2 separate regions of the Homo sapiens genome follow, and region 1 is linked to region 2. A link means that fine-mapping ties the variant in region 2 to the expression of a gene that starts in the linked region. Tissue or cell type: whole blood. Region 2 holds a variant in brackets; the other region holds the start of a gene. All regions are shown on one strand. Distances are from middle to middle.

Region 1 (5,986 bases), 72 kb before region 2:
TTCCCTCATCTGTAAAAATGGGGATAACAACTGAATTTACCTCATGGGATTGTGTAATGCCCAACCTTGTTTTTACTAACCCTGTTTTTAGACTCTCCCTCTTCCTTTAATCACCTAGCCTTGTTTCCACCTGAATTGACTCTCCCTTAGCTAAGACAGCCAGACAGACTCCATCTTGGCTCTTTCACTGGCACCCCTTCCTCAAGGACTTAACTTGTGCAAGCTGACTCCCAGCACATCCAAGAATGCAATTAACTGATAAGATACTGTGGCAAGCTATATCCGCAATTCCCAGGAATTCGTCTGATTGATAACGCCCAAAGCCCCGGGTCTATCACCTTGTAATAGTCTTAAAGCCCCTGCACCTGGAACTGTTTACTTTCCTGTAACCATTTATCCTTTTAACTTTTTGCCTACTTTATTTCTGTAAAATTGTTTTAACTAGACCCCCCCCTCCCCTTTCTAAACCAAAGTATAAAAGAAAATCTAGCCCTTTCCTCAGGGCTGAGAAAATTTTGAGTGTTAGCCGTCTCTCGGTCGCTGGCTAATAAAGGACTCTTAATTCGTCTTAAAGTGTGGCGTTTTTCTAACTCGCTCAGGTACAACAATTGTTGTAAGGAATGATTGAATTCATCCAAGTAAGGGAATTAGAGCAGTTTCTGGCATGAAGTAATTGCTCAATAAAGTGTGTCAGGTTTTAAGATTAATTGATCTTTACATCATGATAAATGGCAACAAAATAAATGACAAATGGATTAAAGTAAATGGTAAAAACAACATAAGAACAAAACATTAAAAAATCATATAATAGAAGAAACCAAATATTAGTAAGTGTGAATATATAAAGTGAAAATTACTACAAGTTCAAATATATATATATATATATATATATATATTTTTTTTTTTTTTTTTTTTTTGAGACAGAGTTTCACTGTGTCACCCAGGCTGGAGTGCAGTGACGTGATCTCAGCCAACTGCAGCCTCCACCTCCCAGGTTCAAGCAATTCTCCTGCCTCAGCCTCCTGAGTGGCTGGGACTACAGGCACACACCACCATGCCTTGCTAATTTTTGTATTTTTAAATAGAGAGAGGGTTTCACCATGTTGGCCAGGCGGGTCTCGAACTCCTGACCTCAAGAGATCCACCTGCCTTGGCCTCCCAAAGCACTGGGATTACAGGCATGAGCCACCGTGCCCAGCCGTTAAAAAAATTTTGAAAAGGTAAATCATAAGCTGGAAAAAAGATTGCAACGTATTTAAGAGTTAATACCCTTAATATATTAAAAAATCAAATTTGTAAGAAAAAATTCAATACATCAAGAGAAAATATATAAAGTACATGTAAAAGGAAGTTCCATATTCCAATTATGAAAATTGCAAATCACGGTTAAATTTATAATAGCCAGTGTTGGTTAGCATGCACGAAAACAGAGAAACAGGTGCTGTTGATGGAAGTGTGTTTTGGTTTAATTTTTTGGAGGGCAGTCAGAAAGTAACAAAAGTCTTAAAAATGTCCATAAAATGGACCTTACAGATGTCCACCTGGTCGTTCCACCTCTAGAAATTTGTAAGACAAATAATTCGGCCGGGCACAGTGGCTCACATCTAACCCCAGCACTTTGGGAGGCTGAGGTGGGCGGATCACGAGATCAGTAGATCAAGACCATCCTTGCTAACACGGTGAAACCCCGTCTCTACTAAAAAATACAAAAAATTAGTCGGGCGTGGTGGCACACACCTGTAGTCCCAGTTACTTGGGAGGCTGAAGCAGGAGAATTGCTTGAACCCGGGAGGCAGAGACTGCAGTAAGCCGAGATCACGCCACTGCACTCCAGCCTGGGTGACAGAGCGAGACTCCGTCTCAAAATAATAATAATTCAACACAGGGTCTCATTCTGTTGCTCAGGCTGGAGTGCAGTGGCATGGTAACAGCTCACTGCAGCCTCAACCTCCTGGGCTGAGGTGATCCTCCCACCTCAGCCTCCTGAGTAGCTAGGACTATAGGTGCACACCACCACACCTGGCTAATTAAAATTTATTTATTTATTTAGTAAATAGAGATGAGGTCTTGCTATGTTGCCCAGGCTGGTCTCGAACTCCTAAGCAGCATCATTTTTTCTAGGTGTTAAACTGACAACCACCCAAATTCCCAGCATAAGGATTCTGCTTAAAATATCTAGCTCTCTGATGAAATATCTTCAAAGAATATTTAATGACCTTAAATCTCAGACAAAAAGGTAAGGAGACAAAATGAGGAACCCATTTCCGTACAACCCCAATTTGGAAAAACACATGTGCAAGTATGCCCATGTTAAAAAATATAGAAGAAAAAAAGGCTTTAAGGAAAAAAAAAATAATAGTAATGATTTAGGGTGGGAATCGCGTTAATATTCCCAATAATTTTATATATTTTAAAAATCTATAATTTTATCAGGGGAAAACGTTATGTTGCGGAAATTAATTGATCGATTGAGTGATTGGTTAACGGACAGTGTCCGATGACTCATATAATCCCCCGGTTCGAGTCCCTTTAGGCCGCAGACGTTTCGCGCCTTCTCGGGTGTCCAAGTCGCGCATCCATACAATGAGGGGTAATATACTAGATTACCTGAGGTCTTCTTACGGTAAAAACACCGGTGTCTTAAGGTTTCCCAGTGGAATTTGGGGGCCGGGTTGACTTCGGAGCTGGAGCTCGCAAAGGCCGGGGCTGCTGCAGATTCTGACGCTTTGTGGACCCCTACTACCGAGCGCAGCCGCACCGCAGGTTTTCTTCGCTGCTGGTTAGATCCAAAGCCCATCCCATCCTAGTAAACTGGGACAGCGCCGCTTCTCACATCACTATGGGGGCTTCTGCTCCGTGGCGGGGAAAGGCCAGAACTGCTGCCTTAAATACGCTTTTGCATCATCCGGTTGCTAACCTCCGGCCACAGCATTCCCCACTCCAAAATGCCACTTTTCCAGGTGTGTTTGCCTAAATTTACCCCATTTACAGACTTCTCAGGTGCATCATTGGGAACAGGGCGCTTTGCAGTTTGCAAACCACCTCAGACAACTCCAGGTTTAAAGGATAAAGGATGACATTGTGAGCAAAGCGGCATCAAAATTTCAGATATTTAACTTTCACATTCTAACCATACACCTTTCCAAGGTCTTGTAATACTTTCACATTGTGAATATACATCTTTACAAGACCCAGTAGTACATGGGTCAAGTGTGGCAAAACAGACATCGCGAGCCAGCCAGGAGTCGAACCTAGAATCTTCTGATCCGTAGTCAGACGCGTTATCCATTGCGCCACTGGCCCCGACTTGCTAAAGCCTTCTCCGTGATAGCTGATCACCCTTATACAGTTTGAACGGGCTTCCGGGTACCAACGATCCATTTTGCCCTTGCGCCGCGCTCCCGCTGCTCTGCCTTTCCCCAAAACGCGCCCCACCAATCCGCAGCGGCTTCGTCACGGCGCTCTTCGTCGCACTCCAACCCGCCGCGTCGGCGGCATCTCTCGCGTGCTCTTGCTTGCGCACTAATTTGTCCTCCACCGCCTCCCGTTCAGGCCGGCTCTCCTGCGGGGCGGGGAAAGGGGTGGGAAGAGGCTGGGAGCTGCGGCCGCTGTGCCAGGGTGACCGGTAGAGTTGTAGCCGAGGTGGCGGCGCGGGGCGGGGCGGGCGGAGAGAGAAGGAAGGAGGTGGTTGTGCAGGATGGCGACGGCGGCCTACGAGCAGCTGAAGCTGTGAGTCCCACGGGCCAGAGGCCTGAGGCGCGGCGGGCGGGGCGGCAGGTGCGGGCCCTGGCCTCGGGGAGGGCTTCTGAGTCCCGGATTGCAGATAGGGTGTGGGAGCTCCTCGCATTTACCGGTTTTCCTCAGCCGGCGCGGCCTCTCCTAGGCCTCGCCCGAGTAGCCATAGGCCGGGAACCAGCGGCTCGCCGGCCTTTCTCCACCGTGCTCGGCCCCAGCGCCCACGGCTGAAGAGAGAAGCTGCCGACTGGCCCCCACCGAGCCGGGGTCGGCGTTATGATGCGGCCCTTCAGGGCACGCTTGTCCCCACTTTCTATGCAGAGCTACCGACTAAATTTATCTGTATGACTTAACAGAGAAAAAGAGTTTTCTCTTACTTAACGGACCTACAGCAGCAATTTAGAGTCTACGCACAAATCAACAAATCTTTGTTTTGCTTACAGCCTATCTGGGTACCGAAGCCTGCCTGCCCCCTCTTCAGTGTGCAGAAAAAATTTAAAGTACAGTCAGTAGTCTTAAGGTCCTGAAGGAGTTTACTTTGGTTTAAATTTTAAACAGCTCCAGCCTAAAGCAGGTTCTTAAGTCAGTGTCGACAGCCAGAGGCTAATCTCGGTAATTTTGGTACTGCAAATTGACTTTTCGGTAAATCCAAGTTCTTGAGTCTTTGATACAGAGGCTGTGGTTGTTAAGAGTTATAAAATAGGTGTTTTTAAGGGTTTTGGTTTGTCTTGGATTAAAAACAACATGTGTTTATTTCCCTTAGTGTTACCCATTAGCATCCACACTTTTCTTGTCTGTGAATAATTTTGTTGTACTCACTTCGTGTTTAATGCTTTACCCCTAGGCTGTTTGAAAATCTGGTGGCCACAGCCTGGGAATATCTGGTAGGAGAAACAAATGTAATTTTTTAGAAGCTTATCTATCCCTGTATATGAGCTAAAATACCTTGGCAGTTAGGCATAGATACCGCATTTCTTTTGCAGGGAAATGACACCAAAATGTGGTTTGGGCACTTAAGCTCCTCAGACCTCAACCTCACTAGTAACTTTCTGAAAGGTTCAGTGGAAAGTTAGAGGTGCAAAATTCAGAGAGGTCATCTATTCCACATTGTATGTGTTGCAAAAAAGATGATTGCTTTTTCTACAGTGCACCCCCTGTGGGTGCCATTTCTGTTTACTGTAATGTTCTTTGAAAACCCTAGCTGCACACTTCCCTCCACATTTTCCTCTCCACCTTTCCCTATTTTCTCCCAGTTCCCCTTTGCAAAGTGCTCACCTCGTCTTTGGTGAAAGAGTTGAAGGAAGTGTCTTCCACTGCGTTTCTGGCCAGGCCACTGTCACATGTGCTCTGCTAGCTAATTAGGTTATTGTGTATCTGATAGGCACTGAAGGGTTTAATGTGATCCTACACCAGGTCTCAAATGTGTTTAAGCCATATGGAGCCATGGCTTCATGCAGCTTAGCGTGGCAAAGATTGAATAGGATGGAGAACTTGAGAATTATGATGATTGTTTTTCAGCTGCCAGAACACTAAATTTAACCAGTTCAGACCTTAAAACAAACCCAAATCCTCGCATACATAAAAGAGAAAGGAAATTTGTCCCTGAAGTAGTAAGAATGATGTTTTTGTATTGATTTTTGTGAGAAGTGGAAACTCTTAAATTATTTGGGTGATAAAGTCAAACTGGGGTTATGTGAAAGTCATTCTCTCATTTGTCAGTCCTAGCTTTTTTTCCCCCTGAAAAAAAAGTTTAGAGTGTTTCTGTAAATGTGAAGGTACAACTTTTTTGCACCTTTTTCTTTACCAAGGGGTTTATGAGTTAGAGTTTCCATTTTTATTCCTTCCTTTTGGCCCTTCCTGCTCTGAGGCTGCTGTTGAAGGTTTTCAAATGTGGCTCCTGCCCTAAGGAGTATTCTTTTTTGGATGCATTTAGAAGTGAAATTGGTTTCTGTGTAAGAATTGGTAGGAGATAGTAGCCATTTTTTAAAATGTGTCTGGAGATGTGTTTTAAGAAATATCCATGCAAAAGAGATAGTTCGATTATTTTATTACAAAAGGATTGCTAAAAGGATTTATTTAAATGTTGAAATGCTTGTTTTTTTTTTCTTTTGTTTCGTTTTGTCTTTAAAGAGATGGGGTCTCATTCTGTTGCCCAGGCTGGAGTACAGTGGTTTGATCATAGCTCACTGCAGCCTCTAACTCCTAGTCTCAAGCGAGCCTCCCACCTCAGCCTCTCGAGGAGCTAGGACTA
Region 2 (5,910 bases):
CTTCTACCAAGCATACAGCCTGCAAACATATTGTTAACAAGGCACATCCTGCACAGCCCTAAATCCATTAAACTTTGATTCATTACAGCGCATGTTTCTGTGAGCACAGAGTTGGGGCTAAAGTTATAGGCTAACAACATCTCAAAGCAGAAACAATTTTTCTTAGTACAGATCAAAATGGAGTTTCTTATGTCTTCCTTTTCTACACAGACACAGTAACAATCTGATCTTTCTTTTCCCCACATGGACTAATGCGATATCATAGATATGGTGTGTCTTCAGTTACAAGATGCTCTGTTTGAATTATATACATTTTAGAAAACTATGTACAGATGAATAATTTAAAATTAATTGTAAGTGGTATTTGTGGTCTTGATAGAGTTGGCCACGATGTCCAAATGTAATATTAAGCCTATGGGAAAGTCAGAGCCACTTTTTTTTTTTTTTTTTTTTGAGTCAGAGTCTTGCTCTGTCGCCCAGACTGGAGTGGAGTGGCATGATCTTGGCTCACAGCAACCGCCACCTCCTAGGTTCAAATGATTCTTGTGCCTCAGCAGCCAGAGTAGCTGGAATTACAGGCCTATGCCACCACTCCCAGCTAATTTTTTTGTATTTTTAGTAGAAATGGGGTTTCGCCATGTTGGCCAGGCTGGCCTCAAACTCCTGACCTCAAGTGATCCACCCACCTTGACCCCCAAGGTGCTAGGATTACAGGCGTGAGCCACCGTGCCCAGCTGAGATCCACTTTCATTCTCACCTCACAGTGGCTCCTGACTCCTTTTCCAATGCACCAAGACACACACCACGGAGGGATGTCTGCACAGACTTCTAATGTGGTTTGGGGTTGCAAACTGTAGTTGGGGCAATTTTTTGTAGAGAGGTCTGGTCCTGGACCCACCGTCAGAGACCTTAGAGAAAGGATCCCTTTGGGGGTCCCAGACAAAGATCTTCTTTCTTTATAACTTGTCATCCTAAGATTTAAAGGGTGGAAGGGGAACACAGAAATTGCATATTCACTACAACTCAAAAAAGAAGAGAATTAATTTTGCACCACTGACAAATAGGTCATCTTAGGCACTTCAAAACTCCTTAAATGGATCTAAAAATATTTGTCCTCTAATATTTTGGTGTCTCTTCAGCCAAAAACAAAAATTGCTTAAATTTGGTCCCATAAGAATTATAGTCATATTTCAGTTTGCAATGTGCCCTAATTCTAGGGCTTTCCTGGAATGAAGGATGCAGTTATCTTTGAGACCGGCTTTCATAGCCCACCCCCTTCCATGATGAGGAGGCAGGTGACAGGGAGGAACAGCCACCACGGGAGGGTGTGCGTTCTCCCAAGGGAGTTTTCTTCCTGCACACCTTCCTCATCTTCTTTAGACACTCAGGAAGTTGATGGGCTGAGCACTCCTGGCTTAAGCATTTGAAAAAGCAGCCGAGGAGTTTCCGCCTGTAAATAGTATCTGTAAAACCGTGAGCGGCTGGGAAGCCCACATCTCAGGCCACGGGGTCTGCGTCTCCCCTCTTGAGGCGACGCTGAACAAAAGTCCCCAGGGCCGCCAGGGGGATGCACATGGTGGAGGAGGCCACAAGCAGCCCGATGACAGCCAGTGCATAGGCCGGGTAATCTTTGGTCACGAGCTGGCCCTGAAAGGAGAGACTGAGTGTCAGCAGAGAGCACCTGCTGAGCACTGCCCCTGGGCCTCAGGGCCCATCCGTGATGGGGAGGTGATGTGACGTGGGCAGAGAGCATGTGGGGCCGGTGTCCTCACTCCTGGGGCCACGGGCTCTGCAATTCACTAGCAAATGTGCCAGGAGCCTAACTGCCCTCACCTTCTTTTTCTTCCATAAACTAGGAATAATAGTAACTACTTGAACCAGTGGGTGTAGAGCTATTGTTTGGAGCTACCCATAATGAATAACCATGGTAATAATCAAGCACCTTATGTCTAAGGCAACTTTCAGGGAACCTAAACTGTAGGCGACTACTCTTAGCCTGGAATGGGACTTTCCCGTGAAGGTAGCAACGTTCTCTGTCAGTGCTGTCTGCTGCGGTAGGCGCGGAGGAGAGCGCTGCTCAGGAGGCAGGAGCTGGCGCCTTTGCAGCGGGAGTTTTTCTCAGCTTCCGGGGGACAGGTGGATGGGGAAGCTCTGGAGGAGTGCCTTCCTCTCGCCCCACTGAAGCACATACCTAAAAGCTCAAAGCCCAGCTCCTCCGTGCTGGACTATTTCTAAAATACCTCAGTGATATTTCCATGTCGTGACAAATAACCTACCCACACCATGGAAATAGTCCCCTGGTTTCGGAAAATGAATGGCCCATGCTTTTCAGTGGCCATGGGGGCCCAGCGCCAGCCCTACGGAGACAGTAGATACCTGGGAGGCGTCCCAGGCTTGATACTTCAGGGTCCCCGTGAGGATGTAGTCGCTCAGGTAGAAGACAAAGAGGCTGACAATCAGCAGTGGGCTTACGCCAGCCCACATCACCTTCCAGTACCAGCTCACAGCTCGGCCGGTCATGGCCTTAAGGTCACTTTCAAATCTATTTGGAAAACAGGGAGAGAAAGTCTGGATTAACCAGGCTGCGGAGGTCAGGGCGTCCAGCTTGCCTGTCCCTATTCACAAAGGAACATTCTGTTCTAGGTGGTAAAGGATGTCTGAGCTTGGCCACTGGGCTCCTCTGTGACACCTTCTTGAGAGACGAGTGCTGCGGTGGGGAGGGGAGAAGGGCTGAGGCTGCCCAGAAGGGATGACGGAGCAAGCAACCCGCAGAGAGTGGACATCAGAAGACGCCTTCCTAATGCCAGCCTTCAGATGAAGGCTGCTGGCATAGCCCAGAGGGCAGCCTCCAGGAATGGTGGGCACAGGCAGCAGGGGATGGACATTTGTCAGGCTGGTCATCAATGACAGGGACTTCTTGGGCGGCTTTGCCCACCCCCCTACCCAGCCCGCCCCTGTCAATCAGTGACTCCCTTTCCCAGTAGAAACACCACGGAGCAGAATCACTTGGTCCATTGAAACCAGAGCAGGTTTTCTGGGACAGAGGAAGAGCCAACCTCGGACTGAAGGACCGTAGCCCTGGCCTGCTGGAGCTGGTCTAGAGTGGCCAGGGCAGTGAGTCCCAAAGGCGTTGCCCACAGCCACCATCACCACCTCCATCATGCCTGTAGCTCTCTTTTCCCTCTTCTTTACTTTTAAACCTACGGTTAGCAGCAGCACAACAGCAGCCAGTTTCTCATCGACTTGACAAACTAAGTACGTGTGTTTTTGAATACACGTACACAGTATAAAAA[G/A]TATCTTTGGCATTTTGGGAGATGTTGGCCCAACGAAACTCCCCATTTCACACAGGAGGAACCAAGGCCCAGGGCTGCGATGCCTTCTTCCTTAGGGCTTGGTAAAGACCAGGCCCAGAACCTGGGTTGGCCTCCTGCCTCCAGCCCAGAGCCTTTAAACCTGCTCCCTACAGCGGAAGAGGCAGCCTTGGCGGGAGGGGCTGGGGTGGTGTGGGTGTGACGTCACCAGCTGCAGCCACAGCCCCTCCCTCCCTGGGACCTGCTGCATGTCCTGGGTGTCCATGCGAGGCTGTGTGGCGACCACCACCTGCCCTTTGCTGCTGCTGACGTAGTTGGACTCTAGGCTGCAGGCCATGAAGGCTCATGTATGTGACACGAAAACCTGGGGCTTTCAAAATCAGACAGGTGAAAAAGTGTTGGGGGTCCTCTTGTCCCTTCACACCCCCATAACCCCCCCCCCTTTCCTGGATGGAGAAAGTTGGGAAGAGCTGGCTGCAGAAAAGCCCCAGGACACTGTTGCTGGGTGGTCACTAGATGGCGGTGTCACCTGAGCAAGCCGAAGCACTCCCCTCCTGCCACTTACATGGTCAGTCCACCTACGACATCTCCAAGGCACGTTTGTTTCTGCCTCTGTCTCCCTTCACCAGCCCCTTTTTGATGGACTTGTGCCCCTCACCCATCTAGTGACCTCCAGCGGGCCCTAGGTTCTGTTCCTCTCTCCCAACCTTCTCTTTTTATCCTGAAACACTCACCCTCTCAGTGACCAATCTCTTTCTCCCTCTAGACTGGCATTTCCTAGGTGACCAGGGATTTTCCCAATTTTAGTACTGAAAGTTCCACGTCCCAGAAAACCCCTCAATCCTGGGGAAACAGGGAGAGTTGGTCCCCTTAACACTAGTGTCCTCAAAATGTTAGTAGCTAAGGGTGGGAGTCGGGTGAGAGGAGGGTGAAAAGGCATTCCTTGACCAAGTAAGTCTGGAAATGCTGCAATTCTAACCCTCTCTTTGGGATCCACAACTGTCTTTAAGATTCTGAGAAGTCCTACGGGAAAGACATCAATTTGGCTTTGTTTAACTTATGTCCTGATGGATCATGGGAGATCCCTCAGCATGGCACGGGACCCTGGCCTTTCCGGGGACACAGCAGGGATTGCTGCTTCAGGGATGCCTGCCTCCCAGAGTGTTGTCAATGTCTCCCTCCCCACCCTGAACCAGCACAGAGGATCAAAAAGACTGGGGAAGAGGGCAGAAAACAACGTGGCACAGCCTCCTCGCCCAAACCGCACCCACTAGAGCAGCGCTGCCCAAACTGTGATGTGCCTCAGGCCCCCTGGACATAGTGTGAAGATACAGGATCTGATTCAGCAGGATGGGGTGGGCCCGAGCTTCTGCAGTCCCAACGAGCGCCTTGTTGCTGCTGCTCCCGCTCTAGGGACCACACTTGAGGTAGCAAAGCTCTCTAGGCCAGTGGTTCTCAAAGTGTGGGTGCCAGACTCATCTGGGAACCTGCTAGAAATGTGAATTCTTGGCCCTCCCCTGGCCTGCCTGATCAGAACCCTGGGGGTGAGTCTCACAGCTGTGTTTGACCAGCCCAAGGGACTCTGAGGCACACTCGAGTTTGAAGGTTGCTCTAGACCAGTGGCTCTTGCCCCAGCTGCACATTCCATCACCTGGGGAGAACTAAAACATTCCAGTCCCGTGCTGTGCACTGGGATTGAGAACCTCACTGACTAAATTTTGAATCTGCCAAATTTTCTAAGGTCTAAGTTATCAACTGGACTTTGGTCAGGGTTCTTGGAAAATACTGATGTTGGCCGATGATCAGAGCATCCAGTGCCTGGAGGCACAATTCCCTGCCCCAGTAAGCTGTGGGGGTCCAGCAGGGTCAACCCTAAAACAGCCTATGATACAAAGCAAAAGTACAGGGAATAGAGAAAAAGATATTCACTGAAGCAAACTGAGCATGGAATAGAGGCAGAGCATAAGCTGAGATCTGCGGGCAAAGAACAAACGTTGAGTCATGATGCGAAGCTTAAAGAAGAGGTGAAGATGTGCATCAAGAAACAGCTGTTTTCCTTGAGGGGCGTGGCCTCTGTGGCTGTGTTTTCCCTATGCAAATGAGGGTCCTGGGCCTCCTCACCTCCTCAGCCCGTACACGTAGCACACGGCAATCGTCTCCACCAGCACGATGAGCAGCAGGGACAGTGTGGCCGCGTAGTCGTTGAATATGTCAAACCAGTAGTTCCCAGCCTCCATCGTGAACACCATGCCAATGGCACAGTTGACAAGGCACACCAGACCTGGGGGCCACAAGACCAGCTGCTCACCTGCCCGAGACCCCCCCACTACTGCTTACCAGTTCTCTACAGGACAGTGGGGTCGTCGGCCCTCAGGGAATTTTGGCTGATTGCTTCATCCACATGGGTTGAAAGAGCTGTCATGGTTTGGACTCTCTGAAGGTGTGTGCCACGTGTGTGGGGCAGGGGGCACAATGGTGTCCCGAAGCGTGTTGGCAGGGGTCACTGATGTTGACTCACTGAGCTGCCCTGCAGGGGTGGCAGAGCTTAAAGCTCAATGAACAAGCAGACGTAGTGGGCACTGTCATTCCAGGATCCCGC

Evidence for each region. PIP is the estimated chance that this variant, and not a neighbour inherited with it, causes the effect.
Region 1: SACM1L starts here. The variant in region 2 is fine-mapped to the expression of SACM1L in whole blood (INTERVAL, PIP 0.95).

Annotation. Positions count from the first base shown.
Region 1 is chr3:45,685,769-45,691,754 of GRCh38, forward strand. It overlaps SACM1L (SAC1 like phosphatidylinositide phosphatase), which reads left to right and starts at 3,628. Exons shown (of 20, transcript NM_014016.5): 1 at 3,628-3,729. The coding sequence starts at 3,698. LIMD1-AS1 (LIMD1 antisense RNA 1) reads right to left here and starts at 3,114. Exons shown (of 3, transcript NR_033947.1): 1 at 2,608-3,114. TRR-ACG2-1 (tRNA-Arg (anticodon ACG) 2-1) reads right to left here and starts at 3,303; the gene lies at 3,231-3,303. It overlaps LIMD1 (LIM domain containing 1), which reads left to right. Exons shown (of 8, transcript NM_014240.3): 8 at 1-573. RefSeq lists enhancers at 2,430-2,499, 3,010-3,059, 3,320-3,609 and a silencer at 3,640-3,819.
Region 2 is chr3:45,757,481-45,763,390 of GRCh38, forward strand. It overlaps SLC6A20 (solute carrier family 6 member 20), which reads right to left. Exons shown (of 11, transcript NM_020208.4): 9 at 5,433-5,592; 10 at 2,377-2,542; 11 at 1-1,647. The coding sequence ends at 1,498. Among named protein-coding and RNA genes, the nearest start is that of SLC6A20, 36 kb to the right of the region's middle. The variant G/A (reference allele first, on the strand shown) is at 3,294.